Linked DNA regions of Homo sapiens. The protein of the gene in region 1 purifies or fractionates together with the protein of each later gene. This does not show direct contact. Each region holds a gene or a part of one and is shown in the gene's direction. Other genes may lie near its edges. The genes, in order: EZR, ACAA2, TBC1D10A, LCP1, AKR1B1, PPA2 and ENO2.

Region 1 (4,492 bases):
ACGTCTGAGAATCAACAAGCGGATCCTGCAGCTCTGCATGGGCAACCATGAGTTGTATATGCGCCGCAGGAAGCCTGACACCATCGAGGTGCAGCAGATGAAGGCCCAGGCCCGGGAGGAGAAGCATCAGAAGCAGCTGGAGCGGTGAGCGCGTGAGGCCAGAGTGGGGGGGGCCTGTGTTCTCCCAACTCAGCCACTGGCAGCCAGTGCCTGTCAGGTGACTGTGGAGCTGATGGGGAGAGTGTGGTGGAATGGAACCCAGTCACCACGCTGGGATCTTCGAGGCCTTTGTCTCTGGGCGGTTGCTGTGGTGCTGAGCCTGTTGTCAGCCCTGGAGCGGCTGCTCCGTCAGGCAGCTCAGGCTGGCAGCAGGCTAGGGTGGCCCTCAGGATACCAAGTCCATCCTGGAGCTTCAAGTACCCGTGAAGTGTGTTGACCCCTCACTTTCCTGCCAGAGTCTAAATCTCCCTGTGCCTCTTTTTCCCTGCACCAGGCAACAGCTGGAAACAGAGAAGAAAAGGAGAGAAACCGTGGAGAGAGAGAAAGAGCAGATGATGCGCGAGAAGGAGGAGTTGATGCTGCGGCTGCAGGACTATGAGGAGAAGACAAAGAAGGCAGAGAGAGGTCAGGCGCCCTGGGGCTGGCACTCTACACTGGGTCATGCATTTCCACAGAGTAGCAGGGGCCACACCCACCCACCCACTCACCAGGAAGGAAACCAAGAACGTGTCCCACAGCGCAGACTCACAGCCGAAATGATAAAATGGTTATTTGGTTTGGAAAACAGTTCTGTACTTATTTAACTTTGATGCTAGTTGTTCTAAGACTTTGTATTTTAAAATTTCCCTAGTCTTTTGCGGTAAGTGCTCAATCACCCAGTTTCCCCGATGAGGACAGTAAGGTTTGGTGCGGTACAGTGATTTGCCCACAGTCCCCCAGCCCATGACTGACAGGGCCATGCTGCACTGCCCTCGACCTCTAGACTAAAACCCAAAGGCGTGTTCAGAGCCAGACTTCCCAGCACAGCTCCAGTCAACAACCCCAGCAGCTGGGCCGATTACACAAGGCGCCACAGATGCTGTATTCACTGGCAGCCCTTACAGCACACATGGGAAGGGTGTTCTGTGTTCTGAGTGGAGTGTGGACCACCAGCACAGCGGGCGGCTGACCTGGGGAGAGTAGCGCCAAGAGGGTTGAGTCAGGCATGCCAGAGAGAGGGCGCCTGGCTGGCGTTGGACGGGTTTCTAGCCATCTTGAGGAAGTTGTCATGGATACAGCAGCAATGAGCTCTGTGAAGTGCTTTCCTCCAGGGTCACTGGAAGACATCCCCTCAACCTGTGACTTGGTCTAGGGCTCTGTGGCTTTGGGGGTGGGAATGGAAAGCGAGGGCTCCTAGGTCCCTGGGCTGAGGGTTTGAATGGCTCTGGCTTTGTGTCTTTGCAGAGCTCTCGGAGCAGATTCAGAGGGCCCTGCAGCTGGAGGAGGAGAGGAAGCGGGCACAGGAGGAGGCCGAGCGCCTAGAGGCTGACCGTATGGCTGCACTGCGGGCTAAGGAGGAGCTGGAGAGACAGGCGGTGGATCAGATAAAGAGCCAGGAGCAGCTGGTAGGAATGGCCTGAGTTTCAAGATGCTGAATTATAGAGAGGCTGCTTCTGAGGATGGAAAATGTGACACCTGCCTTGTAATAATTGTCATGACTGGAAGCTGTAAACTGATCTGCTGGGGGGCTGAAGGCAGCTGGTGGGGAAGGGGCTGGGCTGTTGCCAGGGTCACCCATTGAAGGTGGGTGTGGGCATCCAGGAAGAGATGCCGGGGGTGCACAATGGACCCTGCTGGCCATGGAGTGGGGGTGGCGGGGACTCAGGTGTCACGTTGGAGACTGCTTGCCAACACACATGAACACTCATTCACAACTGGACTCCGTTGAAAGGATATCAGAACTGACGTGAGCTTGGCATTCCCTTCCCAGGCTGCGGAGCTTGCAGAATACACTGCCAAGATTGCCCTCCTGGAAGAGGCGCGGAGGCGCAAGGAGGATGAAGTTGAAGAGTGGCAGCACAGGGTGAGTCTGCACGGGGGACACCTCCGCACGGCCACAGCACCTGTTGCCCAATTGCCTGCGGTGGGGCCCTTCTGCAGGTGGGTGGGTTGGGGGAGAGGTCTGGCTCAAGCTGCCACATCCCACTGGAAGCTTCTGGGATGTCTCATGATCCTCTGCCAATACCAGCTGTACTACTGAAGTAGACATCCCCAAAGAGATGGGTTTGACTTTGTACACGAGTCAGTGCAGCTGCTGGATTCATAGAGGGAGGACCTCTGATTGACTTTCACCCACTTTGCTCCCTCCACCCCGAACTGTTCAGTGCTGATCTGACAGCCCCCGGTCAGGAACTGGTTTTAAATCTAATTATATATGTGCCCCTTGCAATGGGGTCGCAGTGCCTGAAACACGACCTCCTGCAGCTAGTATATACAGCGGGCACCATGGAAAGATCCAGCTCCTTGGACGTCTCCAGGCTGGAGTGAGAGCTGGGCTCTGCTGCTCATCAGCTATTTGGGGGCTAGTAGCATCACTTCTTCAAGCCTCATTTTCCTCATTGTAGAATGGGGGCAATACCCAACTCATAAGGTTGCTCTGCAGATGCGAGGTCCCATGCCCAGGACCTAGCACAGAGGTTTAGTCAGCTGTAGCTCTCATTGTGGGACGCACACAGAGCTTGTCGCTCCGTCTGGGATCCCCTGTGCCCTCCAGGAAGGCACAGCCCCTGAGAAGCTCTGGGGATGGTTCCCACTGGAGACTGCACACCAGGCTTTAAGCAGCTCCTCTCCTTCACAGACCCGCTGGCCCGTCCTTCCCCCACTGTGGCTTCTCCATCTGTGGAGGTGCCTTCTGGGGACGTGTCTCCCGGCTCTCCAGGGCTGCTGCTGCCTAGTACCTCCTTGCCTCTGTTCCAGCCCCCATTCCCGCTGCCGATCTGTATTAGGCTGTTCTCACAACGGCTATAAAGAACAAGCTGAGACTGGGTAGTTAAAGAAAAGAGGTTTAATTGACTCACAGTCCCACATGGCTGGGGGAGGCCTCAGGAAATTTACAATCGTGGCAGAAGGCGAAGGGGAAGCAGGCACCTCTTACATGAGGGCAGAAGAGAGAAAAGCAAAGGGGGGTAATGCCAAACACTGAAACCATCAGCTCTTGCTCAGAACCCACCCACTAGCACGAGAACAGCATAGGGGAAACCACCCCGTAATCCAGTCACCTCCCACCAGGTAATGCCCCCCACCCCCAGCATGGGGGGATTACAGGTGGAGATGAGATTTGGGTGGGGACACAGCCATATCACCATCCCAAGTTGCAAGCGGAAGACTTTGGTTCTTAGGTTTTTGGAGAAAGTACCTGTTAAGTGAGGAGAGCTGGCTACAAAGCAGATCCACACTAAGCTCAACTCTAGGGCTGGCTGGGATGGAGGCGGGCGGGACTGGGTGTGTGTGAAGCTGTTGGAAGGACTGCAAGTGGCGAGCAGGAGAGCACTTGATAATGACTGTGGCATGAAGGGAGGCTAGGAACAGAGCCCGTTACTCATGCTAACAGGATTTTTTTTCTAAAAATTATATAATGTCTAGAGTTACAGGTAAAAAAAGAAATGGTAGTTTTAAAACTGCCCAGGTTCCGGCATCACAGTTCCTCTTCCTGTCTTGGACGCAGAGGGTTGTAAACCCCCCATGCACCCTGAGGGTGCTCCTCTTCGAAGCCACAGCCCAGCACAGTTCAGTGCTGCCTTAGCCTGCCAGGACAGAGGGAGGTGACAGTCTGTTCTCATAGCCAGGAGGATAGGACTTCTGGGTGAGAAGTCCTCTTATTAATTTGCTTTCCAAAGGCCAAAGAAGCCCAGGATGACCTGGTGAAGACCAAGGAGGAGCTGCACCTGGTGATGACAGCACCCCCGCCCCCACCACCCCCCGTGTACGAGCCGGTGAGCTACCATGTCCAGGAGAGCTTGCAGGATGAGGGCGCAGAGCCCACGGGCTACAGCGCGGAGCTGTCTAGTGAGGGCATCCGGGATGACCGCAATGAGGAGAAGCGCATCACTGAGGCAGAGAAGAACGAGCGTGTGCAGCGGCAGCTGCTGGTGAGGCCCAAGGGGCTCTGTCTCCAGGGAGCCTGCCTCGCTTTTGGAGCAGACAGGCTTGGGGAGGGCAGTGATGTGAGCCAGCCCCACCCAGCACCCCTCTTGCCCTTCCTGTTTTCCTAGGGGACGGGCCGGGCCATATGGGGAGGAAGGGACTAGACCAATGCTGCTTAATGTTACAGACGCTGAGCAGCGAGCTGTCCCAGGCCCGAGATGAGAATAAGAGGACCCACAATGACATCATCCACAACGAGAACATGAGGCAAGGCCGGGACAAGTACAAGACGCTGCGGCAGATCCGGCAGGGCAACACCAAGCAGCGCATCGACGAGTTCGAGGCCCTGTAACAGCCAGGCCAGGACCAA
Region 2 (4,492 bases), on another chromosome or scaffold:
TTAAAGCCATTAAGGTTACTCAGTCATAGAATTTGAACCCAGGTCTGTGAGTGTTACCTGTGAGGCACTGAATAAAGACCGTGAGGCAAGCAGGAAATCTCAAGAATTTAGGAGAGGATAAGGAAATGTATTTTATTTCAAAGGAAGTGAATGATGCTGTTAGTAGAAGTACAAACTAGTTTGACCTTTTTAAAGGACAGTTGGTTAAATACATTTGTTTCTTTGAGCACAGAGAAGAAAGTGAAATCCAATTTCATTTGTAAAAGTCTTCATTTTATTACAAACAAAATAAGAGCCAGAGGCGTATTTTAATAAAACAATTTTCACATTAATTTGTTTCTATAACGATATATCTTAAATAGTGACCTCGGTTTTCCTAGTAATAATTTTAAGAACCATCAGGTTCATAGAGGCTCATTATTTGCTCCTTTTCTGAGAAAGGCAAACAGTGGAAAGTGTTGGAAGAATGAAGTGGTTTCCTTTTTATGAGTCACCTAGATTGAACTAGTTCTTGTAAATCTCTGTTCTTGTTCAGATACATCCATTAATGGGATAAATTTTTCTTTTGCCTTTTTAAAGGGTATGTCCTTTATTATCTGCTGTACATTTATGCCAGGTATTAATATCTGTTGATTTTCAAGATTTATATTGTGTTAAGAATTACTATTCTTAGCCACATGTAGGTAGGGCCTGTTACTCAGGCAAACATGATTGAAACCTTTTAGTTTTCTCCTCCTACATCTTGGTAATGGATACTTTAGCATTTGCTTTACAGTTACTTTAAAAGCATTTCCTTTTGAGACACTGTAAGCTACAGTACAATATTTGTTTGATTTACCATTAATTTGTAAAATCAGTGTGTTTCTTAATACATTGTTTGGGTACGGTAAAAGGAGTTTTTATTACTGTTTGTTTTTAAATAGGAAATTTGTGTTAAAGAAGCTGAAGTTGTTTTATGTGGAGGAACCGAAAGCATGAGCCAAGCTCCCTACTGTGTCAGAAATGTGCGTTTTGGAACCAAGCTTGGATCAGATATCAAGGTTGGAACCATAAAAATTTAAAAGAATTAGTTCTTATTAGCATTATATAAGTACTTTTAATAACATACCTTTTTATGGGAGAGAAAACTAATTTTGAAGCCAATTTCGTTGATGAGGATTGGCAAGATATGAATGATTAGAAGTTTGTAAACTATTTCAAAACTCTATTTTGGTGGTTAGTTTTGACATTTTAACCCATATGAAATTAGATTCTATCTATCTCAGCAGACCTCTAGTAGTATAATTATCCTGTGTAAGTGGCCATAGGCATGGGAGAGATGGAGGAAGGGAAGAAGTGGATTAAAAAGATAGACAAAAGAGTGAATTAATCTCACTACTAAACAATTAGTAATCTGAGTAATTAAATCTTTAACGTGACTTATAGAAGTTTTATTTCTGGGACAGTCTCAGAATAGATTTCTTCATCATCACAGAAAACATCTTTGAATACAGATTATATTGTCCCAAATCAAACAAAAACTGATTCTTTTATCTTTGAGAGCTACAACTTGAGAATGATGGTACAGTACTGATAAAGAATGATGTTTTCTTCTCATTCCCATGTGAAAGGGCTACTGACATTTTATATTTTTTAGCATTTTCTATAGTAATGTTTGACTCACACTGTTCACCCAGTTTCTCACCTGGCCTTTTTGGAAGTTGAAAGGAATGGGACTTAAGAGAATCTATGCGGATTTTAGCCACCAAACACATTTGAGATATCTTTTATGAAGACAGGTCAGTGAGTTAAATGTTGATGAGGCAGCAAAGTGGGGCACACTTACCAGAGACTAACTACTTGAATAATAATTAACAACCTTTCTGTAACTCTGGGAACCTGTCCCAAGATCTTTTCAGCCTCATAGTAACCGATAGAACCAGCTATTCCTGTCACTGAGGCGCAGGATGAAAAAGAAAAACAGATAATACTGTTTATTACAGAGCTCAGGGCTGGTTTACAAAGATGGCTATAAGAAAACATTGCATGAAGACTCATTGTCAGGTTTTCTACAAAATATGACCTTGAGGATTTAATTTTTGATCGTAGGGTAACTTCTGTGATCTCACCATGCACGTCTAGTCCTGTTAGCTGTTCTTAGACCCCCACATTTAGAGAGGGACAGAGAATGTGTGCATTTTATTTTGTGACATTGAATGTTTTCAAAAACATTGCATGTTTTTAAAAAATATCCCATAACTGAATATGAATAGTGGTTATCAGAAAGTCTTAATTTTACTTTTGTTTATTGGAAGTGTTGATTATTTAAAGAAATTATAACATATTACTTTTAAAAGGAAATGCCTTAACAAGTCACTTTATTAATGTCTTTTAATAGCTGGAAGATTCTTTATGGGTATCATTAACAGATCAGCATGTCCAGCTCCCCATGGCAATGACTGCAGAGAATCTTGCTGTAAAACACAAAATAAGCAGAGAAGAATGTGACAAATATGCCCTGCAGTCACAGCAGAGATGGAAAGCTGGTGAGTGAAACTGGAAAGTATCAGTATCTATAGAATAAATATCTATAGGAAATATTTTCATCATTTCTATTATGGTTATATAATATTTACAAATCATACCTTTAAGAATTATTACATCTTTTCATTATTCCTTTGTCTTTAGATGATCAGATATTTTATTAATTATTGCAAAATTAACTAGGAATTTCTCTTTTGAAAAAGTTAGTACTACTTAAAAAGTGGTATTGCTACTTGACCCTAGATGGACCCTTGAGTTTTGTGCTGAACTGGTCCTGTTGTCAGTAGAACATGATGAGGAATACGATACGTTCTGTCAGAGGTGATAGCTCACTGTGGCAACTGGAATATAGAGGATGTCCTCTCCCACAAGCCATATCATAATCATAAGAAGGGGTAATGTATTTGGAAAAGACCCACTGGGTCTTTTATGCTTTCCTTCTGCCACTCCTAATTAAGAATCATTGTACCTAACTCAGAGACTTAGAACTAGTCCGAGACTCTAGTTAGAGTGCCCTGGTGTAGCACAGCAGGTTGCTATAGAGCCGGTCCAAAACAGGCAAATGTGACAGCAGTTCTTTTAGCAGTGCAGCAAGTTGAAGAAATGTGATATTTAAAAAATTAAACTGTTAAAGCAAGTGGAAACTCTTATTTAGGAATATTAAATGCTTGAAGTAATGAGGATAAAGTCCATCTTAGCATTTCAGAAGGATAAGTGGAATAGAGCTGATGCCATCTAACTCGTGTGTTTTTTTACTTATATGTTCATAGTGGAAGAGGATTGGTCTAGAAGTCAAGAGTTATCAGTTCTGTTTCTACTTCTACCACGCACAAGTTATCAAGCTCAGTCATATCATTTATTCACTGAACCTCTGTAAGATAGAGATAACAATATTTGCCTTCCCTATTTATCTAATAAGGTTGTTTTAAAACCAAATAAGGGCATATAAGGAAAGTATTTTGCCAATTGTAAAGTGATATGAAAATTAAGGTTAGTATTATTCCTGACCCTATTTCCAAAGCTATAGATTACTACAGTACATTCTAGTCAGTGGAGGTCAAAGTAGGTAAGATGTTTTACTTATAATTGTATTAGTGATTGCTCCCATAATTTCTTCAGGTTGCCTATCACTATTAAGTTTCAGTTAGATTACTTTGTGGCATAGACAACTTGGTAACTTTTTAATTGCTTATCTCACCAAAAGAAGTTTAAAAGGGGTATTAAGTCCATTTATTGCCATTACATCTATAGCAAACAGACAGATGCTGCTAACAGTCTTAGCAGTACCTGGTGAAAAAAAATTGTGGTTAAAAAAATATAATTTTTAAAAATATAATTTTTAAAAGATGCAAAATGCATCTACATAAACACATGACAGTATCGTAAATCCTCCAATACGGAAGGTAAGTTGTGTAAGTAAATAGTAAAGACTCTATAATTTTTAAAAGATGCAAAATGCAACTACATAAACACATGATGGTATCGTAAATCCTCCAATACGGAAGGTAAGTTGTGTAAGTAAATAGTAAAGACTCAGGCTGAGCGTGGTGGCTCATATCTGTAATCCCAGCACTTTGGGAGGTCAAGGAGGGTGGATCACGAGGTGGTGAGTTCGAGGCTAGCATGGCCAACATGGAGAAACCCCATCTCTACTAAAAATATAAAAAAAATTAGCCGGGCATGGTGGTGGGCACCTATAATCCCAGCTACTGGGGAGGCTGAGGCAGGAGAATCACTTGAACCCGGGAGGCAGAGGTTGCAGTGAGCCGAGACTGTGCCGTTGCACTCCAGCCCAGGCGACAATGTGAGACTCCATCTCAAAAATTAATAAAGACTCAATATTAAAGTAGACTGTGAGGAAAAGGTAGATCAGAAATTAAATTGAATAATATGTTTGATTTATTTTCATGTTTCTCTCTTTTATTCTTATGATAGTCTCTCTACTATTTTTCAGCTAATGATGCTGGCT
Region 3 (4,492 bases), on another chromosome or scaffold:
CCTCAGTTTCTCACCTGCAGAATGGTTATGATAACACTGACTTTGCAGGATCATTCTGAGGTTTAAATGAACTAATAATACAGGGTAGGTGCTCAGTGAATGTTCTTCTCCCTCTTAAAGACTGGAGCAGCTCGTGGTTCTATCTTTTCATTTTCTACTTCCCATCTTTGGCTATAATGATGAGTGTCAGTGAGGCCCAGCCCCTGTCGGCAGGAATGAACCCTAACCCATGGTGAATCCTTACTTCCCCTGAGAGGGGTGATTATCCCCATTCTGTGGATGAGCGTACTGAAGACCGAGGAAAAAGTGCCCAAGGTTTGCCAGCTGGTAAATGGCAGAACTGGGACTAGAACCTGTTTCTTGACACTGCATCCAGTAGTGACTACACCTTGCTAAGGTGGCAGCAGGCAGGGTGCCAGGTGCTTACTGTCCCTAAGTCCCTAAGGTCCCTGAGGTCCCCACACCCAGGGCAGGAGTTAGCAGGAATCTGGCTACCTCCCCCTTCCAGTATGGAGGGCAGAGCAGGTCTCAGTACAGGGAAAGGTCATGGCCATCAAGCAGGAGAAAGGCACAGGGAGGAAAATCCTTGGAGAGGTCCTGGAAGCATGGCCAGATCAGGCCTGATTTAGTCCTCCCATAGGCCAGAGTCCGGATTGCATTGGTCTTGACCCCAACATGCTGCATAATGGCCATTTGACTTTGATATCTAGTCTGTGCCTTTTGGAAGAAGTGTTACTTTGTAGATGAGGCAGGGATTATGTTGCTTGTACCGGTGAGGAATCTGAAGGTTGGAGAACTCTTGCTGTTAGTGAACTGTGGAGCCAGACCGGAGAGGGATCCCAGGTCCTCCGACTGTCACCCAGTGCTCCTCTAGCTACATAGCACTGACCATTCTCTTCCCCTTTCTCTTCCTCAGTCGAGGTAATTGAGCCTACAGGCTCAGGATGCATTGCCGACTAGAGCAGAGCCCTGCCATCATCCATCCGTTGTCCTAGCTGATCACTTTATCCTGCAGACAGTACACTTGAGGGGTAGGAGGCCTCCTTTAACTGATTAGTCTGCCCCTGGTAAATCTATTGCCGCAATCCTGGGCCCAGAGACCCTCTCCAGCAGGGAGAACACTGTACTGGCCACCCCACTGGCAAGTCAATGCTCCTGATACTTAACCAGCTTAGAAGCCCCCACCTAGGATTTCAGGGCAGCTGCCAACTTTGGCTTTCTCTGTCTCATCCTTCCATTTCCCGTCTCTCCTCCCCCTACCCTACCCTACTCCATTCTGTGCCCTGTCCAGGTCTTCAGAGGCTGCCATAGCTTAGCACTCAACACCTCTTCAGGTAGAGAAATACTCAGCAGACCCAGCAGCCTGGGAGAGCAAACCAAGGCTTACTTTTGCCAGCTTATCCATCTTAGCAGTGAGCTTATTTACCACACATTTATTGAGCACCTACTCTGTCAGACCCTGTGATTTGGACAAGAGATATAGAACTGAACAAGATGTCTGTGTTTTATTGCCCTCAAGGCACTCACAGACTTGCTGAAAAATAGAACCACAGACAAATCTTTCCAGTGTTGAGTGATGAAGGCTGTCATTGAGGCATGCAGTTGCTCTGGGAGTACAGAGGAAAAAGCAGCCAGCCCCACCTGCAGGAGCCTAGAAAGTAGTAGCATTTGATCCAGGCTTCAGAAGAGGCAAAGCAGGGCAGTCCATTGGATGAGAGGGGGCCCATGTGCAAAGTCCCTCCCAAAAGCAGTCGTTTGAGCATGTGTGGCAAGAGCAGAGATGACAAGAAGAACGGGAGGCAGTAGGATGATACGACAAGAAGAACGGGAGGCAGTAGAATGATACGAAGCAAGGGTAGGTTAGGGAAATGGGTTGGGCAGTCTCAGTCTAGCCTTGAATGTCAGGCTGAGGCCTCTTGTGTTGCATAAAAGTTAGTCCAGGAAATGGGTTGGGCGGTCTGAGTCCAGCCTTGAATGTCAGGCTGAGGCCTCCTGTGTTGCATAAAAGTTAGTCCAGGTCTGGCATGGAAGACGGCATAAAGAGGAGCTGGATTGCAGGCAGTGAGACCTGTTGGGAGAATCAAGGATGGCCTAAAAGGGCTGTGGTGAGACCTGGAAGAGGTCTGGAGCAGTGAGGATAAAGAGGCTGGCAAATCATTAGTGCTTGGTTCATGACTGCCATGTGGGCTGATGGAGAGGTAGGAAGGCTCTGGACTAGCTGAAGTGGCTTTGGCCTCTTACAGAGTCCATTCTGGAGCCCTCTGGCTACAGGGAAGCAAGGCCAGCTGTGGCCTTCCTCTGAAGAGGGCAGTGGGCTGCTGTGACTCTGCGTTGTCACAGCTCTGGGCTCCCCAAGGTGCCTGGTATGGCTGGCTTGCCCCGGGCACATCAAGGGGTTCTTTGTCTCCTTCCAGCAGGAGAGTGGGTTGGCTGACCTGGTTGGGGAAGGAATAGGATAAGCGGTGTTGAGCTTCCTGGTCTCTGCCTGGCAGACATATTGGATGATAAGGAAGGATGCAAGGAGAACCAGAAGAGAGGACTGGGGCCTGAGGACATGGAAAACCTACCTTAGGGTGGTATGGCAACTGGGAAGGGTGGGTTTGGGCCTTTGGACACAGCATACACTGATCAAGGGGAGGCACTTGGCAACTGGAGGCTTGTTTGACCTCACCTAGCACCTTTATTCTGTTCTTAGAGGTGGTGCCTTGGCTGGGACAAAACCTGTGAGAAGGCAAACCCCTCAGCACTTACAAGGGGCACCACCAGTGGCATCCGGAGATGAGAGATTCTGGCTGGAAATGTGGATTTTAGGCTAGTGTTTGAGAAAGGGCTCTGAACCAGGCACAGGGTCAGAGTGTCAGTGATGGCTCCACCACTGACCTTTGTAATATGTGACTTAGGCACATCCCTCACCCAACCATGGGGCTAATGCTTCCAGTTTTTTTCACCCAGCACTTACTATATGTGTAGCCCTGTGCTAGGCTCAGGATATAGACCTGATCTTGCCCTCACAGGGAAATCAGACATTAAACAAGTAGTTTCAACCAGTCTGGTCAACATAGTGAGACCCTGTCTCTAAAAAATAAATTAGCTGGGCATGGTGGCACGTGCCGGTAGTCCTAGCTACTACAGAGGCTGAGGCTGAGCCTGGGAGTTTGAGGCTGCAGTGAGCTGTGATTGTGCCACTGCACTCCAGCCTGGGTGACAGAGCGAGACCCCATTTCTAAAAAAAATTTTAAAAAGAGAAAGAAGTTACCAGGTGTGGTTGTATACAAAGGATTGTGAGGATCAAATGAGATAATTGGATTAGGAGCATAGTGTAAACAAATACTGCTGAACGGAGATCTGGAGACCTTAACCCTATGCCTTACTGAGCCACTAACTAGCTGTGTGACCTTGAGAAAGTTGCTTAATCTTGGTTTTGTTTTGTTTTGTTTTGTTTTTTTGAGATGGAGTTTTGCTCTTTTGCGCAGGCTGGAGTGAAATGGCACAATTGATCTTGGCTCACTGCAACCTCTGCCTTCCGGTTCAAGCGATTCTCATGCCTCAGCCTCCCGAGTAGCTGGGGTTTTAGGTGCCCACCACCATGCCCGGCTAATTTTTGCATTTTTAGTAGAGACAGGGTTTTGCCATGTTGGCCAGGTTGGTCTCAAACTCCTGACCTCAGGTGATCCACCCACCTTGGCCTTCCAAAATGCTGGGATTACAGGCATGAGCCACCATGCCGGTCAAAAGTTGCTTAATCTTTTTAACCTCGGTTTTCCCCACATAAAAACTACGCAGTTTGTATGTGTGTGTGTATGTGTGTTTGTTTTTAAGAGACAGGGTCTGGCTCTGTCACCCAGGCTGGAATGCAGTGGTGCAATCACAGCTCACTGCAGCCTCAACCTCCCAGGCACAAGCGATCTTCCCACCTCAGCCTCCTGAGTAGCTGGGATTACAGGCTGAAGCCACCATGCCTGGCTACTTTTTTTACTTTTTGTAGAGACAGAGTCTCACTATGTTGCCCAGGCTGGTTTCAAACTCCTGGGCACAAGCGATCCTCCCTCCTCAGCCTCCCAAAGTGCTTACGTTATAGGCATGAGCCACTGTGCCAGCCAACTAAGGCAGCTTTAGTGGGATGGTGTTGAAGACAGCTACATCTGACATCCTGAGACTGACCGTGGAGTATATGAAAAGTGTTTTGAAGCCTGAGTAACATAGGGAGACCCCATCTCTACATCCCATAATTTAAAAATTAGCTGGGCATAGTGGTGCGCACCTGTTGTCCCAGCTACTTGGGAGGCTGAGGTAGGAGGATCACTTGAGCCTGGGAAATCAAGGCTACAGTGAGCCATTATTGCACTACTGCACTCCAGCCTGGGCAATGGAGACCCTATCTCAAAAAAAAAAAAACAAAAACAAAAACAGTGCTTTGAGAAGTTCTCTATGTGGTACCACGCAAGTTCAGGGGAGTCACCATGGCACATGCCACAGAAACCACTGCTCCCAG
Region 4 (4,492 bases), on another chromosome or scaffold:
GGGGAGAGGAAATAGGGATCTTAGAACCTGTGAGAAAGAATATTGATCTTCAAATAATGACCTCAGCTAAATTTAAACCTTCTAGCTGAGCAAAAAAATACTTACTCATCTGGGAAAACGTAGAGGAGAGTTGATTACATTGTTGAGTTGCTATAATTAGGCAGGTAAGCACTTGAAATATAAAACACCTATGGGAATAGACAAGAGAACATTGTTATTATTACAAAATTGATCTCTTAAAAGCAAAAATGTTGTCATATTGTGAAATGTGGTTTGACAGACCCAGCAAAACATCCGAGCCAGTAGCCTTGGTTATTTTTATGGCTCTGCCCAAATGTTCTTAAACATAGCGTTGAGATTCACTGTGCTTTGTTTTCTCCATCTGGAAAATGGAGATAATAAATAAGCTCACAATGGCTTACGCCTCTTTTTAGGGAATAATAATAAAATATTTAATCCATGGGAAAGGCTACAAGAACCTTTACCCCAAAGAGGTAACGTTGTTATCTTTAGCTTTTTAGCAGAGCTTAATGAAAGTTATAACCAACCCCCCTCCCCCAACATCGCTGCATTTATTTTTCTGTGGTTTTTGTGCTTCTTCAGCTCTGATTGCTCTTTTGAGAGAAGGTGAGAGCCTGGAGGATTTGATGAAACTCTCCCCTGAAGAGCTCTTGCTGAGGTGGGCTAATTACCACCTGGAAAATGCAGGCTGCAACAAAATTGGCAACTTCAGTACTGACATCAAGGTAGGAGGAGCGTTGTTTGAACATGACTCTCTGCAGGAGTGAAGGGGAATTTGGGCAATAATAAAGAAAAGATAAAGATTTGGGGCTTCCTCTCTTCAGAAGTTCCAGGGTAGTCTGGTGCTGTTTTGGAGGTGCTCACTGTCCTTGAGAGCCCATCTGCTGCTCTAGTCCTGGGCCATACACAGACCTGCCCAGAGTCCTAGTGCAGTGTCTCGATTGGAGTTTCCATATCAGGAAGTAGAGGGACAAAGGTGAGCTAGAGGAAGAGCAAGAGAACAGTCTGCTGTCCAAGTAAAGGGAATATATGTAGGTCTGTAATGTCTCTGGTTTCATAAATGGGAGCAGCAGATGGGAATTCCCTGTAAAAAATTAAATGAAGATGACTCTTCTAGTTATACTAATAACAGCAAACATGGTGTCTGCAACATGCCAGGCACTGTTCTAACTGATTTATATGTGTATTCTCTTATTGAATCCTTACAACAACCCCATGAGGTAAGGGTTATTATCCTCTCATTTTACAGATAAAGAGACAAAGAGGTCCATAGGGGAAAGGCTGAGGCAGGAATACACTGTGGTTTTCAAGTATATGAAAAGTTCCCTGTCAAGGTGAAAGAAAACAGCTATTGGCAATGATGACAGATGGATGAAGATAGAAAGTGGTTAAGGAGCAGAAAGGAATGGAAAGCGGTCCCTAGAAGGAAAGAGTAGGAGATGCTGGGATGCAACACCAGGAAAATACTTCAGTCTCCACTTTCTCAAACATTAAATAACTTTTCCCCAAAGAGAAAGAGTCAGAGGAAAGTTCACATGACTCAACAGGAGTACACCTAGGCTTGTAATTCTTTGAGTAACAGTTTCCCACTGCTATATGACGTGCATTCAGTGGCATTTAGAACTCAGCGTGTGTCAGGCACTGTGCCAGTCAGAGTCAAGCTTCTAGATGGAAAGCCCCCATTTTTTAGGATCTAAGCTAAATCCATCTTTCTAACTATGCATCTTTCATGGGCTATTAACATTCTTCTAGCACCACCAACCGACCTGGGTTTTAACAGGAGCTGGCTGTCATGCTCTCCCTTTGTGCTCAACAGTTAAGCTCTGCAATTGCAAAACTTTTCAGACAAAATTAGGCTGTCAGATCTCAGCTGTAAATTTACCTAATTTCCTGTCATTAAATGGCTGTGTTCTCTAGAACCACCATTTTGTGCTTTGGGAAGTGTCTGTATGAGATAGGAGCTGGCCAGATGAGCACTTACTTATACAGTGTTGTGCCTGTTCTCTGGCAGCCGCTGCATGGCAACTGACTCCGTGCTGTCATGTGTATGTCTGAGTAGCCAGCCAGCAACCTTGGGAGATGTCTTTAAATCGTGTAAATTGGCAAAGGCGAGGAGAACACCCAGGCTAGAGTGAGTGAGAAGGTTCATGAGAGTCAGGTGAAATGAGGTTACTCTTAGCCAAACTAAAAAGATGTAACCCAGGGCAGGCAGATGGTATTGGTGCCTGACACCTGCATGTGACTTTCACTGACTTCAAAATAGCTACAGTGAAAAGTCAGAGAAGGGAGGGTAGATAGAAGGGAGATGAAGATCATTTTCCCCAGGTGCAACATCAATGATTCACACTCTCTGGTTCTCCTCTTTCTAATGCCAAAAGTGGTGAGCATACCTCTCCTCTGCCCAGGCCTTACCTACCCTAACCAGTTGTAGAAACAAAATAATAGCTGATTTTTCGATCTTTATGAGAAATTGAGATGCTATTAAATGATTTAAATAAACTACCTGAAAATCTGTATGCTTTCATTGACTAAGAATAAATTTATATTTTAAGACTATAATTCTGAGAATTCTTTTTGTCAATAAGCATATTTTCAGAATCTAAGAAAACTTGAGAATTCAATACCTGTATCTAATCTGCTATAACTAAATTGAACCATTTTTCTAGCTTCTAGATAAATATGAAATGCACTTTTCTTAATATTTCTCCTTTTACGTAAAGATTGCTTGTTAATGCTTCAATCTTCTGTCTTTGACATCTTTTTCTCTTGCTGATTGTCCATTTAAATGTATTTTAAACTCGCTTTAAACTTGTGCTTCCTTTTTCTGTCACTTTTTTTTAATTAAACCTTAGCTGACTGACTTCTACAGCAATATAAAGGTATATATATATTTTCCTGTATACAATTTAATTCATGTAAATAAGTTGTTTTTCTCCCCTAAAGACAACAGAATAATATCCACTTCTTTAGGGTGCCTTTTGTGTATATCTTGTCTATTTTATTGTTACGCTCCTTTTAAAAAGAAAAGCAAATGTGATATGTAAAGAGACAAATAGAACATTCAAATTAGTGAATGTTTCTAGCTTTGTTAAGTTACATTCTGGAATGATAGCTGAATATGAAATAAAATGTTTGCTTTTGGGAAATCATTGTTATGCTAAGTATGTAATTAGCTGTGCTATTTTGAAATTGGAATTTCTTAATTTCTCACAGGACTCAAAAGCTTATTACCACCTGCTTGAGCAGGTGGCTCCAAAAGGAGATGAAGAAGGTGTTCCTGCTGTTGTTATTGACATGTCAGGACTGCGGGTAAGGCCAGGTCCCAGTTGTGTTTGGAGAATATGATGCTATTTTCATGTTGGCAGTTCCATTACCTTGTGTGGCCCTGATTCTGGAGTTCCATGACTGGGCATTTCTGCCTAAAGCCCTGTTAAAACGGTAAAACTGTGAGCAGTTTGGGATAATAATTGATGAAAACTGAATCTGGAAATACAACATTAAAGAAAGAAACCAATAGTAATTAAACACCATCCAGCATGCTAGGCAATTCTATATATGTTCATCATTTAGTAGACTCTATAACCCCACATGGGTCTGAATGTTATAATAAAACTTCTGTTTTGCCGCCACTTTAATACTGATCTTGAGAAGTCTCTTTGCCCGTTTCTGTGCCTCATTTAATATCACTGGAGTTAAATCCAATGAGTTCATGTTGAAGTCAACTGATTCCTAATGAGAAGTAGAGTAAAAGTAAATGACAAGTAAAGCTCATGAAATGCATAATGTGTAGCGTTATCTAGTAAAGGGTCATATTAAGAAATCATCCTAATTTAAAGTTTTGTTTTCTGAAAATTGGTGGTTTCATGTACTTTAAGGACAGTGGGCCATATTTCAGCAAAATTTTAGGGTTAAGAGTCACTTACAAATGGCTAGAGATTCTCTAGAATTATTTGAGCACATTGAGTGGTTCAAAATCTGAAGTCTGCAAAAATAAAATTGATATTATATATTTATCAATAATAATACATAGGTTAACTGATAAAATTTATTTTATTTGGGTTGCAAGTATACCAACTCAATGTGGAGACAGTGGTTATGCTAATCATATGTTCTTACTGGCAAGTGTAAATATCTTTTGTGAACTGGTTATGGGAATATAAATTAATAAATAAAATTTTTGATAGACAATCTCATGTCATCTGTGCACACAAATAATAAAAAGGAATCTTAATGGTTGGAAATAATTAAGATAAACTCAAATGATCAGTTTTCAGAATCTACTGCATCTCTTTTGAAACAGAGCAACCAACCACTCATCTGAAATAGTTTGATAAAGGAGATGAGAGATCCTTGTTACTTAACCTCTGAGATTCCTTTTACTTGTGACTTTCTGATTTTGGTGCAGGTGCATATAGGCAATAATGTGCTGTTATTAAGTGTCTGCCTGAGATAAACACTAATGATTTCAGTG
Region 5 (4,492 bases), on another chromosome or scaffold:
TTGAGAAATTGGATAATGTCTGCTTCATTCATTACTATTTCTAGCACTTCTCACAGTGCCTGGCAAATATAGGAGTAGGTATCCAAAAGTTATGTGTTGAATTCATATGAAGAAGTAAAACGACTTTAGAGATAGCTGTATGGTGAAAACGCCCACTTGTATTCCTGTGGATGAGGAGATCAGGTTGGTGTAGAATTGTACGGTGGGGGCAGCGGGGAATGGTGGGTCAAAGTAATGGTATAAGGATGGACTTGGAATCAACTTCCTTTTTTTTTTTAATGACTTAAAACCTTTCCCTGGGGCCGGGCGCGGTGGCTCACACCTGTAACCCCAGCACTTTGGGAGGCAGAGGCGGGCAGATCATGAGGTCAGAAGATAGAGACCGTCCTGGCTAACATGGTGAAACCCCGTCTCTACTAAAAATACAAAAAATTAGCCCGGCATCGTGGCACGCACCTGTAGTCCCAGCTACTTGGGAGGCTGAGGCAGGAAAATCGCTTGAACCCCAGATGTGGAGGTTGCAGTGAGCCGAGGTCCCGCCACTGCACTCCAGCCTGGGCGATGGAGCAAGACTCCATCTAAAAAAACAACCAAACAAAAAAACCTTTCCCTTGTATGTGTGTATGTATTCTTTCACAGATGCTCGACAGAAGATGTGATCCTTTGCCTGTCTTTGTGACAGCTGGAGGAGGCCCTGCAGGCAGGTGCAGTTCCTTATTCTCCTGGGTCTTCCCATGCCGTAGCGGCTGTGTTGTACCTTTCAGACCCTCAGCAGGGCTCTGGTAGTCTCTACTCTTGAAGGTCCTCAAACTCCATTCTCTTCTCAGGTGAGGGTTTCAGGCAGATGGGGAGACCATCTCTGCCCCAGACCCATGTGGCTTGGACAGGGTTTCTTTCTGGCAGTCTTGCCTTCTACATTGGATAGTAAACAATTACACCTGTAATCCCAGCACTTTGGAAGGCCAAGGCGGGTGGATCACCTGAGGTCAGGAGTTCGAGACCAGCTGGCCAACATGGTGAAACCCCCTCTCTACTAAAAATACAAAAATTAGCCCGGCATGGTGGTGGGTGCCTGTAATCCCAGCTGCTTGGGAGGCTGAGGCAGGAGAATCACTTGAATCCAGAAGGTAGAGGTTGCCATGATCTGAGATTGTGCCACTGCACTCCAGCCTAGGCGACAAGAGCAAAAAAAAACTCGGTCTCAGAAACAACAACAACAACAAAAACCCATCACAGCATTGTAAAGCCAGGAAGCTTTTAAAACAGAGATGATGTCTGGTGCCCACCAGTGTCTTGTTACTGATAGTGTTTTTAATCTAGTTGAAAAATTGTTGGAGGTAAAAGTCATTGTAAGTCTCCTATGTATGCTCACAGAATACTCCTAGGGCTGAAGGTACAACTATGTTTCTCCATCTTTTGCCATGATCACTACCTCCCTCCCACCTAGGAGCCTTGTGAGACTTTTTTTTCCCCTAATTTGCCCCAAAATAAAATTGTAATATCAGAGATAATATTGTACTTCTGCTTATGGCCAGTAGCCTTCTAGAGGGTCACAAGCTGTTCTATAAGCTGAGGGGGGTTTTTTTGCCCCAGAGAACTAATTTTTGTCTCTTTGGGGACAATAGCACCCACTTTAAGAATGCATGAGGTAAAAGAAAATGTGCCAGGAAAGACTTGCTCCACCTTCCCCAAGTGGGGTAAGCTTGTGATGGCCCAAGATCCTTGGATGGGGTGAGGGTTGAGGCGCTGTGGGCATGGAGGTAACACAGGAGCCAGATTTACTGTTCACTTCCCTGGTGTCTCTAAAGCCCCCATCTCTTCCTCTTCAAGACCAAAGACATTTAAATAAGCCCTGCCCCTACAGGGTCAGTCCTGGTCCATGCACATCTCAACTAGTTGGAAACAGCAGTGTCTTAGAATTTGGGACAAATTGATTAAAACAGAACAGGAGGAAGTTAATTTCTGCTGCCAAACCTGATTCTGAGTGATCGTTTCCTGTTCCTTGCTCCAGGATTATCAGCACAGCATTCTCATGCTTCCTACTCAGGACCGTTTCTTTACCCAAAGTGAAGTTTCCTTTGCCCCCTCCCCTTATCCTTTGATTTCAGTAGTAACACCTGCTAACTAGAGAACATTTCAAAAATGAAGAGTTCCCTGTTCCCAGAGATCCCCGTGGTTAATATTGCAAAATATCCAATCTCTGAGATACTTTGGTTTTACCATAAACACTGTCCTGTGACCGTCTTCCTGTTTAGCACTGTGGCTTGCTTTTTGACTTGCAGAGGGAAGAGAGGGAGGGGTATCTTGAAGTAACTAGCAAGACCTGTAAGCAAAAGGGAAGAAGACTAGGTTTTAAAAGGAGTGTTGTATCTGTGTAGGAGGGAGACACTGATTTTAGTTATCAGTGTCTCAGAGTTGGTATTAGCCAGCCGGTGTTATCAAAGGAGGAACTAGGACCGCTGTCTTGAAGGAGGTGGTGGAGGACTCAAGGGCAGAGGCTTCTCACTGCCATCACTTGGTGCCATCAGCCCAGAGCATTTCAAGTCACTGCCCAACGTAGAGCTTTGCAGAGCCAGAAGTTCTGGGAGGAATGGGCATGCATGGTTTTGCCCATCAAGGGCACACAGATTAGTGGCAGGATCGGGTTAGAAACATGTAGGATTTGTATGATTGAGCTGTAATTGGAGTGTTTCATATACTGCATTTCTACAGCTCTCATCAGTAATGGCTGTGCCTGGATGCCACCCAGCATGTTTTCATAGTTTACCTTCTTTTTAGAAGTCAATCTGGACCCCTCCTTCTGTTTGCATTTTCTCTTTGTTGACATGGAATGGGGAGATGTTGTCATCCTGTGTTGGCATTCCCAAGTTTAGTGAATGGTTTCTCACCATAGCTTAAGTTGGCTGCTTCATTTTTCATAAGGCAAATTAGTTTCTCTCAGGGAAGGGCTGTACATTGAGATCATTAACATAGAATGTGGTTGTGGATCCTCGTACATTTTCATTGCAGAGGTGACTTTTTCCCTCCAGCACCTTTGATCAGCCTCCCAGCACACATGTCTCCAGCGAATGGCACATATCCAAGGAATGATCAGCAGCTTCTTCGTGACCTCTTGCAGTCATTGCTGTCTTTTACTTTTCTAGAAAAACCTCTCACAACTTTTTTTTCATGTCGTGCCAACGCAAGCTTGATTATCCTAGTCTGTGCTCTTTTGGTTCCAAAGAACTGAAAAACCACTTTAATCTTAAGCAGGAAAAAAAAAAGTGTGTTTGGGGTGGGGATTGATTGACTTCCCCAAACAACAGCCGCTGACATTAGGTGTTTGAGATTCAGGGTTGTAAATGTTGTCACCAGGATTTGGCCTCCCTCCACTTTCCTGCAGCAGCTCCAGGCTGACATTCTCCCAGCTCAGTGACCCCAGCAGAACCGGGGCTGGACTCAGGGGTTCCAATTCAAGTGCAAAGATTGAGTCTTATGGCCTGGATTGAGTCATGTTCCTGTCCCCGCACCAGTTGCATGGCAGGCAGTGCGTGGCTAGGCTGAGCCTGCGGAGTGTGCCCTCAGCAGCTCCTCAGAGAAAAATCAATCAAGGCGCCATCAAGCCTGGAGAAAGTTCAGTGTGTCCTGGGCAGTTTCCTGCCTGGGCCCCAGTTGTTCTTTCTGGGGTAGGGATGTCCTCTGCTCTCCCTGCTGTCATCAGTGGTGGTTGTGCCCGGACACCACTCAGGGCCTGTGGTAAGGCATTCTTTCTGGAAATTGAGATTCTCTGTTCCTTCAACCGTGCAGAGTGGGGAAGGCTGCAAGAGCAGCTTCTGAGGTCCTCCAGTCAAATAAGAGGTCGCCAGGTCCTCTGAGGGTCGTCCCCTCTTAACCCACACCTTCGATGAGCATCCCCACCCTGCCTCGCTGCTCCCTCTGAGGTGGAGAGTGAGCTCCATGCTAACAGGCTCTGGTAACGGGCTTGTTCAACTGGGCCCCTTTCTTCCCCAAAGCCTGTTGAAAATAGCTGATGTCAAAACACAGATGTCTGCAGCTGCTATGGCCCTGGGGGGTTTTTCTTTTCATTTGTTTCTACCCCAGCTCTCCAAAGGAATGTGCTCTGTTCATTCAACAGCCCGCTGCACATGTTTATTGCTCAGCTCTGTGATCATAGCAGGATAGTGAAAGTTGGGGGATACGTGTCCATGCAGCCTACCTGGGTGCCAGTGAAGCGCGATGCCATGTAGGCACTTCCTCCTCCTCTTCAGTAGCCAGGCTCCCCACAGCTGTTCTGGTTACTCAGATGGTCAGGTGGCTTGGCCATGGACACCCATTCAGTCATTTTGCCAGGTCAGCCACTAACCATTTGGTGATCTTCCATGATCCACATTCCCCCTCGTTTCCCTTTAACTTATTTCTCTCTGCTGATACCTCTGAGGGGCCATCTCCCGTGTCTCCACCCCTTGAAGCAGATCCTCATACAGTGAGAATTGACACATGGGCCTTTGAATAA
Region 6 (4,492 bases), on another chromosome or scaffold:
GGACATAGAATTAATTATTTCTTATCCCATCTCCTTTTCTTCCTTCTGTGATTTGCTTAGATTGCCACCAAGGAGCCAATGAATCCCATTAAACAATATGTAAAGGATGGAAAGCTACGCTATGTGGCGAATATCTTCCCTTACAAGGGTTATATATGGAATTATGGTACCCTCCCTCAGGTAACATTTTTGTTACAATGGTAAAATGTTCCTGTCTTCTGAAAAAATTGCCTTATAAATCCTGTGAACTACTGAATTTAAATTGGTTCTGAGGACATGTCATTTGGAGAGGTTTGTAAATTTGGAATTTATTAACGTGGATGGAGTTTTAGTATATCAATAAATTTTGTTTTAAACCATATATATGTCTATACTCAAGTTCTTGGAGTCAGGCATATGGAATGTTCACATTTGACATTTTGAATACATTTTTTTTTTTCTGGTCTTGCCTATTAAGTGTCAGTGAAAAACTTTTAAGCGAGGCTTTATCTACAGTCATTCCTTTGAACATGACAAGTTATGCTTTTATACACATTCATATATGATAGCACAAATTTTATATTTTAAACTTTAACAGATGAATGTGTTAAATTATTAACTTTTTCCTGGAACTCATTGTAAATTGAATTGCACAACTTATTTACTGTTATGAGTTAATAATTTTTAAGTAGAAAGCAGAGAAAACAAGAGCTAAATAATGATAAGGTAGCATTCCTGTTGGAGAATAACAACTATTTGCTTTTCTTCCTTTCTTTACCTCTTTTGGTTTTCTCTCATGTTTCCTCATTCCCAGGAAGAGGTAACTCTTCCAGATTATTTAGTGAGTAAAACTCAGAATATGCTGAATCAAAATTCTAGGTTTTGGGGACACAGAGAACCATCTGCCTTTATGTTTATAAAAACCATAGACCATCTGTCTGGAAATTTAATTTTTATATTTTTATTTATTTTAATATTTTGCATGAAATTTCAAGATGGTATTGGGGAAATATCTGAGAAGAGAGGTCTTGTTTTATCCAACATGAAAAAGCAGCTGCCCGTGTAGAATAAACATTCACAGGAAAATTTAAAAAAAAATTGTTTTCTAAAGAGTCAGGCTGTCTCTGATTCAGTTAGATCACCCACATGGATACATTCTTGGTTAAAATGGGCACTTCTAAAGTGATATGCTAAGAATGAGAATGCCTGTGGAAACCATGAAAGCAGGTTTTCTAACTCTCCAGGTACTTAAATAGGTATGCTGTTTGACCCAACAGCAAAAGGTTGAAAAAGTTCTGTAAAGCTTAGGGGATGCAGCCTGTAGGAAATGTGTGGATGAGGGTAATGCTGAAGAAGCCAATGAATTAGAGACAGACAAAAACAGAGACGTAAGTAGAGGAGCTAGAGAATAAACTAAGGTGCATGTATTTATTTCTTTAAACATTTATTAAGGATTTATGTGCTAGGCAGGATATTAGGTGTTGGGTATATAAAGACAGATGGGATATAGATGTGACATCAAGGCCTCATAATAAGTGACTGGAAAATGTGGGTTTGGGAGTGAGATTGTCACTTTCTAGTAATGTGACCTTGGGCCTTGGGAAAGATACTTTTCCTCATTTTCTTCATCTGTAAAATGGAGAACATAAAATATCTACTTCTTATCTTTGTGTTGAGATTAAATGAGTTACTGCATTTGAATAGTGTGTAACATGTAGTAATCAATTATTGTTATAATTAAGACTGGTACTTTTATTATCGTATGGTTCTTTCCCTAAAGTTGTTTTTAGTCTGATTGGGGCAATCAAGAACTAAACTGCTGGTTATGATGTGGTATAATAGGCACTACTAATTCATCTACTAATTTAAAATTATGAAAAAAATAAAAAAGCAAACCTATTGACAGGAAAGAGAGAAGGGGAGGAACGGAGGTAAAAACAAAAGAAGCTTCTGTAGTTTTCCATTTAAAGTCCTGCCAAACTTCTGTGCTCCTCTGGATGTGTCTGGATTTCCAGATGTTCTGCAGTGGTATTAATCTGGCAGGTACGGTAGTTCTTCTACTAATAAAACAGAATTAGACTGTGGTAGTCCCTTAATTCATTATTCACCCTGCATTCACCATTGCCTACCTAAGTTTCATACTCCATCCAATATCCAAATTGATATTTTTAAAACACAAATTTGCAGATGCTTTTCTTGTACAAGAACACCTTAATGGTCTCCTGTTGCTTAAAAGATAAAATACAAAATTCTTAACATTGCTACTCAACCCTGTGTGATCTGGCCTCCGCTTACTTCTCTATCCTCATTTTGCAGCATTCCCCCTTTCTCACGTCTATCCACCACAAAGTCTTCTTCAGTGTTTCTAACTTACCTCATTGTGTCCTCACCAGGCCTTCACCAAACTGTTCATTCATTCAGTACATATTTATTAAAGGCCTGTATATTTGCAAGGTGTTCTTGTAAGTACTGCAGGTAAAGCAGTGATAAAAAGTGACAGATATTTCTCTGGAGCTTTTATTTTAGTCAGATAAACAGACAATAAACAAAATAAACCCCAAGTAAAATGTCAGGTGGTGGTAAGTATGTCAAAGAAAAGTTAAGCAGGGAATGGGACTAGGGGATATTAGGATTGTTGCAATTTAGACAGGGAGACGATCTCAGTGAAAAGGTGTTATTTGAGTAAAGATCTAAAGGAAGTGAGGGAACAAGTAGTGTGGACATCTAGAGGAAGAGCAGTCCAACAAGAAACAGCAAGTATAAAGGTCCTGAGGTGGAAATAGGCCTAGCATGTGTGAGTATCAAAAAGGAAGCCAGTGTGGCTAGAATGGAAGTGAAAGAGGAAATAGACCTGCATTCTGTCTGCCATTTTCAATTAGAGATCTGTACTACTTTTTTAAACCTGACTGATCTTGGAGAGAGAGAGAGAAAAAGAGAGAGAGAGTCTGTGTGTGTGTGTGTGTGTGTGTGTGTGTGTGTGTGTGTGTGTGTGAATACACCATAAATTGCATATAAGTTAGTTATTTATCAAAGAAAATAACTAAATTGAATGATGTTTTTAAGAATGCTGAAATCATGCCAATTGCTTATGGGATAGCTTATGGAATAGCTCTACCTGATTTTTTTTTTTTTTTTTTTTCTGCTTGATGGTTGATGTTCAGACATGACCCTGTTAAAATGAAAGCCAGCCCCTGGTCCCATTTATCTTTTTAATCTCATCTCCAACTCTCCTTCTGCCTTCTGCTTCTTCACTTCCACACTGGCACTCTGGTGCTCAAAGCACACTGATGTCTCAAGCCCTCACCTTCACTGTGTCCTTTCCTGGGAACACTCCTTTCCAGGTATGCACATGGCTTCCTTAGGTTGCCTTTAACTCATCTTCTTCATAGTATCTGCCAATCATCCTTTAAAACTTTTAACCCTACTCCCATTCCCCCTCTCATACTTTATTTCCCTTTTCTATAACACCTGCCAAATTGTAACCTGCTGTATAATTTATTTATTATGTTTATTGTTAATTTCTCCCAGCTAGAATGCAGACTTCATGAGGGCAGGTATTCTGTCTCTTTTGTTCACTGATACATTCTGACTACCCAGCTTAATGCCTGCCATGGAGTAGGTGATCAATAACTGTGAAATGAATAAATTAATGCATTGTGTATGTGTGTCACATTTGTTTCATAGGCGTGTGTGGATACTTTAGCTGTTCTATGATTCGTCTTGTAACAGCAAGAAACTTGTTCAGAGCAGTTACTGAGCCAACTGTGTACTTAGAAGAACATTTAAGCAGCAGAATACTGTTTAAGTAGTAGTCTATCCACTTAGCTTGTGATTCATCAGTATACCATCATTATTCAGACCTTCAGCTGTCTAGACCGTTAGCCTGAATAGCATCTCCCGCACTCCTAATAATGCCTTCCTCAAAGTTTGAGCTTCCCTGGGCAAAAATTCATCTCGTCTTCCCACCAGTTTATTCATATTGCCCACATGTAATGGGTTATTTCAGTGTTACATCTCATTGAGTGAATATTTAGAATACCTGTCTGGAAAATATTAAAAGACTAGATTCAGTTTAAATTCAAAATTTCTTCAGTCTTAATGTAGTATTGATATGTTTATTTTGTGCTTAATTATAAATTTGGTTCATTGACCTCCCCAATCAAATATATAGTCCTACTTATTAGCTTTATAACCTGAGACAAGTGACTAAATCTCTCTAGGCCTGTTTGTTTATCTGTATGATCATACTACCTACCCTACAAGGTTATTGTGAGTATTGAATGAGTTGATCAGAGGTGTTTGGCCCCATAGTGAGTTCTTAATAATATTAACTCAATGATGATGATTGCTACTGATGTTAGCTACTAGTAGTAAAAACACTGGTAGAGGCTTTTGCTCCAAATTAAAGCTGGGAAAGCATAGGTGATGGCTCATCCCTGTAATTCCAGTTCTTTGGGAGCCCAAGACAAGAGGATCAGTTGAGGCCAGGAGTTTAAGGTTGCAGTGAGCTATG
Region 7 (4,301 bases), on another chromosome or scaffold:
CAGAGCAAGGGGAGATGAGTTTAGCTGCAGAGGGAAGGACCGACAGTAGGCAGAAGGAAGACCTTCTTTGCAGCATACAGAGGAGGGGGATGGCCTGAGAGAGTCTGTGGTCTCAGGGATATTTAGAAAGAGGTGTGGCTCTCTGCCGTTTCCAATCTCCTCCTCCCCACCCATTCCTCTCCCTGCTGTTTTCAAGAGAGCATGGATGAGGTGTTGCTGGGGCAGGGGTGGGGAGGGAGGAGGGGGTCTCCTTTACTGGCTCCTTTTGGAGACTACAGATGGAGGCAGGAGCTAGAAAGGAGAAGGGGACATTGTGCTCAGCACCTTCCTCTATAATCTCCTAGCCAAGTTTGGGGCCAATGCCATCCTGGGTGTGTCTCTGGCCGTGTGTAAGGCAGGGGCAGCTGAGCGGGAACTGCCCCTGTATCGCCACATTGCTCAGCTGGCCGGGAACTCAGACCTCATCCTGCCTGTGCCGGTGAGCAATAAGCCAGCCTGCGGCTCTCCCAGGGGCGGGTGGGGGAGGGAGCATGCAACTCATGAGGAATGATGGGAGGAAAGTGAATTGAGGGAGGTAAAGAGGAAGGATGGGGACGTGAGACTTAGTCCGGAAAGCTGGGGGAAGTTTGGGATCTTGGGTTAACACTCCTGGGGCGGGCAGGGAGGGGCTCTTTGACCCTTCTGTCTTTCTGTGGCTCCCCAGGCCTTCAACGTGATCAATGGTGGCTCTCATGCTGGCAACAAGCTGGCCATGCAGGAGTTCATGATCCTCCCAGTGGGAGCTGAGAGCTTTCGGGATGCCATGCGACTAGGTGCAGAGGTCTACCATACACTCAAGGGAGTCATCAAGGACAAATACGGCAAGGATGCCACCAATGTGGGGGATGAAGGTGGCTTTGCCCCCAATATCCTGGAGAACAGTGAAGGTGAGGCCAGGAGCCCCACTCCCAGCTCTAAGTCTTACCCTATTGTGGGACATCAGAAAGGGTGACACAGTTCACCAAGTCCTGAGTAGGCGTGGAGGGTCCTAGGACTCTGCAAACTCCAAAAGGTACCAGTTCTTAGAGTGGATTGCAGAGAGCCTGCCAAATTCACATGCAGACCTAGGGGGACAGTATTTTTTTTTTTTTTTGAGACGGAGTCTTGCTCTGTCACCCAGGCTGGAGTGCAGTGGCTCGATCTCAGCTCACTGCAAGCTCCGCCTCCCGGGTTCACGCCATTCTCCTGCCTCAGCCTCCCGAGTAGCTGGGACTACAGGCGCCCGCCACCACGCCCGGCTAATTTTTTGTATTTTTTAGTAGAGACAGGGTTTCACTGTGGTCTCGAACTCCTGACCTTGTGATCGGCCCGCCTCGGCCTCCCAAAGTGCTGGGATTACAAGCGTGAGCCACCACGCCTGGCCAGGGGACAGTCTTTTACCTGCCTAGCCAGATGTGTTAGCATCTGTTAAGTTGCCACTGGAAGGCCGGGCGCGGTGGCTCACACCTGTAATCCCAGCACTTTGGGAGGCTGAGGCGGGTGGATCACCTGAGGTCAGGAGTTTGAGACCAGCCTGGCCAACAAGGTGAAACCCCGTCTCTACTAAAAATACAAAAATTAGCCGGGCATGGTGGCGTGTGCCTGTAATCACAGATACTAGCGGGGCTGAGGCAGGAGGATCGCTTGTACCCGGGAGGCGGAGGTTGTGGTGAGCCGAGATCATGCCACTGCACTCCAGCCTGGGCAACAGAGCGAGACTCCGTCTCAAAAAAAAAAAAAAAAAAAAAAGTTGTCACTGGAGCCCTTGGGAATACTGGGAGATGGTCTGGATGACTGTTGGATTCATCCCATCCATTCGAAATCTGTCCTGTCCCCGTCCCAACCTCCTAGGCCTCTAGAATCCCTAATTTTTCTGTGCCTTGGGGGAAACTGTATAGGGAATGGAAAGAATATAGGTAGTGGTTAAGAGTTAAGGTTCTGGGGCCAAATAACCTGGATTTATTTGAACCTTGACTTGTGGAGTTACTGCTGGTGAACTTTCTTACTTCTCTCTGGAAATAATAACAGAATCTAGCTCATGGTAGTGTGAGGCTTAAATGAAATATATATAAAATGCTTAGATGACATGATACCAATGAAAGTATAGTAAGTATTATTAAGAGAATTCCATTCCTCTGTGTTCCTAGAAGATGGCCTCTCCTCCCAGACCTGGGGATAACCCCAACAGCATCCCCGCCACACTTCCCTCAGGAACAGCCCTCCACCTCTGCCCTGAATGTCTTTTCTTTCCCTCCTCCTCCTTGCCCATCCCTCCTGCTTGTACTATAATCTCACTGTATTCTGTCCCCAGCCTTGGAGCTGGTGAAGGAAGCCATCGACAAGGCTGGCTACACGGAAAAGATCGTTATTGGCATGGATGTTGCTGCCTCAGAGTTTTATCGTGATGGCAAATATGACTTGGACTTCAAGTCTCCCACTGATCCTTCCCGATACATCACTGGGGACCAGCTGGGGGCACTCTACCAGGACTTTGTCAGGGACTATCCTGGTGAGAGGAAGTGGTGTGAGGGGGAGGTCTGGGGGCAGGCAGGGACGTGTCCCAGCAACTCTGGACCTTATGGGGTGCTGACTCAGGCACCAGGTGGGGGTGTCCTAAGAAGAACCTGAGAACCAGGGAGAGGGTGCAGGAGCCACCTGCAAAGACTGGGCTTTGTATGTAGTGTAAAAATGCAGGTACCCGTGACCAATCTGTTCTGTCTCAGATCCTGATTAAAGTCATGGGTTCTGAAAACTACTGGGGTCATGGGGAAGGCTCTGGAAGGAACCAGGGATGATATGAGTGTGACTGGATCTAGCAGAGAACTAGAACATTTCAGTATCTTTGATTGATGAAATTGTGGATGCTGAATGGAGCTGGGACTGATGTGTGAGTAGAAAGAAGGCTGAGGGGGACTGAATTAGCTTCTGCAAGTCTGCCCAGGGCCTTTATCTCAGGATGGAGGCAGTTGGTCGCCATCTTCCTGACACAGAGCGAAAGAAAATCAACATAATTGCAGAATTAAGGATTTGGATTAGCAATGAGGAAGGGCTTGCTGGCAGTGAGAACAGGAAAATGCAAAGCTAGGTTGTGAACCCTTGTTACTGGAAGATTTTTTTTGGGGGGGGGGTGGGGTTGTTTTTTTTGTTTTGTTTTTTTTTTTTGAGACAGAGTTTGACTCTTCTTGCCCAGGCTGGAGTGCAATGGCGCCATCTCGGCTCACCACAACCTCCACCTCCCGGATTCAAGCGATTCTTCTGCCTCAGCCTCCCGAATAGCTGGGATTACAGGCATGTGCCACCATGCCTGGCTAATTTTGTATTTTTAGTAGAGACAGGGGTTTCTCCATGTTGGTCAGGCTGGTCTCCAACTCCTGACCTCAGGTAATCTATCCACCTTGGTCTCCCAAAGTGCTGGGATTACAGGCGTGAGCCACCACGCCTGGCTGGTTTGCTTTTAATTAACTTTTTTTTTTTTTTTTTTTTTTTGTAGAGACAGGGTTTAGCCATGTTGCTCATGGCTGGTCTCAAACTACTGGGCTCAAGTGATCTGCATGCCTCGGCCTCCCAAAGTGCTGGGATTACAGGCATGAGCCACTGTGCCCAGCCTATGGAAGTGGCGTGAGATCTCTGCTCACTGCACGATTCTCTTAGCCTCCCAAGTAGCTGGGATTACAGGCGTGCACCACCATGCCTGGCTAATTTTTGTATTTTTAGTAGAGATGGGGTTTTACTATGTTAGCCAGGGAACTCCTATCCTCAAGTGATCCGTTCACCTCAGTATCCCAAAGTGCTGGGATTACAGGCATGAGCCACTGTGCCTGGCCTCTCCATGTAAGGTTTTATGAAATAAGAATCAGGAGCCAGGCGTGGTGGCTCATGCCTGTAATCCCATTACTTTGGGAAGCCGAGGCAGGAGGACTGCTTGAATCCAGGAGTTCGAGACTGGCCTGGCAATACAGTGAGACCTCATCTCTACAAAAATTTTAAAAATTAGCTGAGTGTGGTGCCACACACCTAAAGTCCCTGCTACTCAGGAGGCTGAGGTGGCAGGATCACTTGATTGGGGAGGTGGAGGTTGCAGTGAGCTGAGATTGTGCCACTGCACTCCAGCCTGGATGACAGAATGAGGCTCTGTCAAAAAAAAAAAAAAAGTTAAGAATCAGTTAGGGCAGGCTTACACTGGGGGGATTTGTCTTAGCAAGGATGAGCAGGTGTAGTTAACCAAGGGCCTGTCCATTTCAGGGAATAAAGGGGCATGTTCCTGCCTGATGTAGAGACCCAGG

What was found.
Region 2: the proteins of EZR (region 1) and ACAA2 fractionate together in Homo sapiens (co-fractionation; one large-scale study listed by BioGRID). This does not show direct contact.
Region 3: the proteins of EZR (region 1) and TBC1D10A purify together in Homo sapiens (pull-down; one study listed by IntAct). This does not show direct contact.
Region 4: the proteins of EZR (region 1) and LCP1 fractionate together in Homo sapiens (co-fractionation; one large-scale study listed by BioGRID). This does not show direct contact.
Region 5: the proteins of EZR (region 1) and AKR1B1 fractionate together in Homo sapiens (co-fractionation; one large-scale study listed by BioGRID). This does not show direct contact.
Region 6: the proteins of EZR (region 1) and PPA2 fractionate together in Homo sapiens (co-fractionation; one large-scale study listed by BioGRID). This does not show direct contact.
Region 7: the proteins of EZR (region 1) and ENO2 purify together in Homo sapiens (affinity purification with mass spectrometry; 2 studies listed by BioGRID, with this or other methods). This does not show direct contact.

Annotation. Positions count from the first base shown.
Region 1 is NC_000006.12:158,766,896-158,771,387, reverse strand, and holds part of EZR (ezrin), read left to right. Parts: coding exon 1-144; intron 145-493; coding exon 494-624; intron 625-1,443; coding exon 1,444-1,604; intron 1,605-1,969; coding exon 1,970-2,062; intron 2,063-3,875; coding exon 3,876-4,127; intron 4,128-4,309; coding exon 4,310-4,474; 3' UTR 4,475-4,492. UniProt on the Homo sapiens protein: Probably involved in connections of major cytoskeletal structures to the plasma membrane. In epithelial cells, required for the formation of microvilli and membrane ruffles on the apical pole. Along with PLEKHG6, required for normal macropinocytosis.
Region 2 is NC_000018.10:49,792,313-49,796,804, reverse strand, and holds part of ACAA2 (3-ketoacyl-CoA thiolase, mitochondrial), read left to right. Parts: intron 1-923; coding exon 924-1,040; intron 1,041-2,377; coding exon 2,378-2,525; intron 2,526-4,477; coding exon 4,478-4,492. UniProt on the Homo sapiens protein: In the production of energy from fats, this is one of the enzymes that catalyzes the last step of the mitochondrial beta-oxidation pathway, an aerobic process breaking down fatty acids into acetyl-CoA.
Region 3 is NC_000022.11:30,316,365-30,320,856, reverse strand, and holds part of TBC1D10A (TBC1 domain family member 10A), read left to right. Parts: intron 1-4,492.
Region 4 is NC_000013.11:46,147,190-46,151,681, reverse strand, and holds part of LCP1 (plastin-2), read left to right. Parts: intron 1-603; coding exon 604-746; intron 747-2,873; coding exon of another isoform or gene 2,874-3,065; exon of another isoform or gene 3,066-3,167; intron 3,168-3,234; coding exon 3,235-3,330; intron 3,331-4,492.
Region 5 is NC_000007.14:134,452,307-134,456,798, reverse strand, and holds part of AKR1B1 (aldo-keto reductase family 1 member B1), read left to right. Parts: intron 1-4,492. UniProt on the Homo sapiens protein: Catalyzes the NADPH-dependent reduction of a wide variety of carbonyl-containing compounds to their corresponding alcohols.
Region 6 is NC_000004.12:105,442,071-105,446,562, reverse strand, and holds part of PPA2 (inorganic pyrophosphatase 2, mitochondrial isoform 1 precursor), read left to right. Parts: intron 1-60; coding exon 61-180; intron 181-4,492.
Region 7 is NC_000012.12:6,917,237-6,921,537, forward strand, and holds part of ENO2 (gamma-enolase), read left to right. Parts: intron 1-344; coding exon 345-478; intron 479-703; coding exon 704-926; intron 927-2,329; coding exon 2,330-2,527; intron 2,528-4,301. UniProt on the Homo sapiens protein: Has neurotrophic and neuroprotective properties on a broad spectrum of central nervous system (CNS) neurons. Binds, in a calcium-dependent manner, to cultured neocortical neurons and promotes cell survival.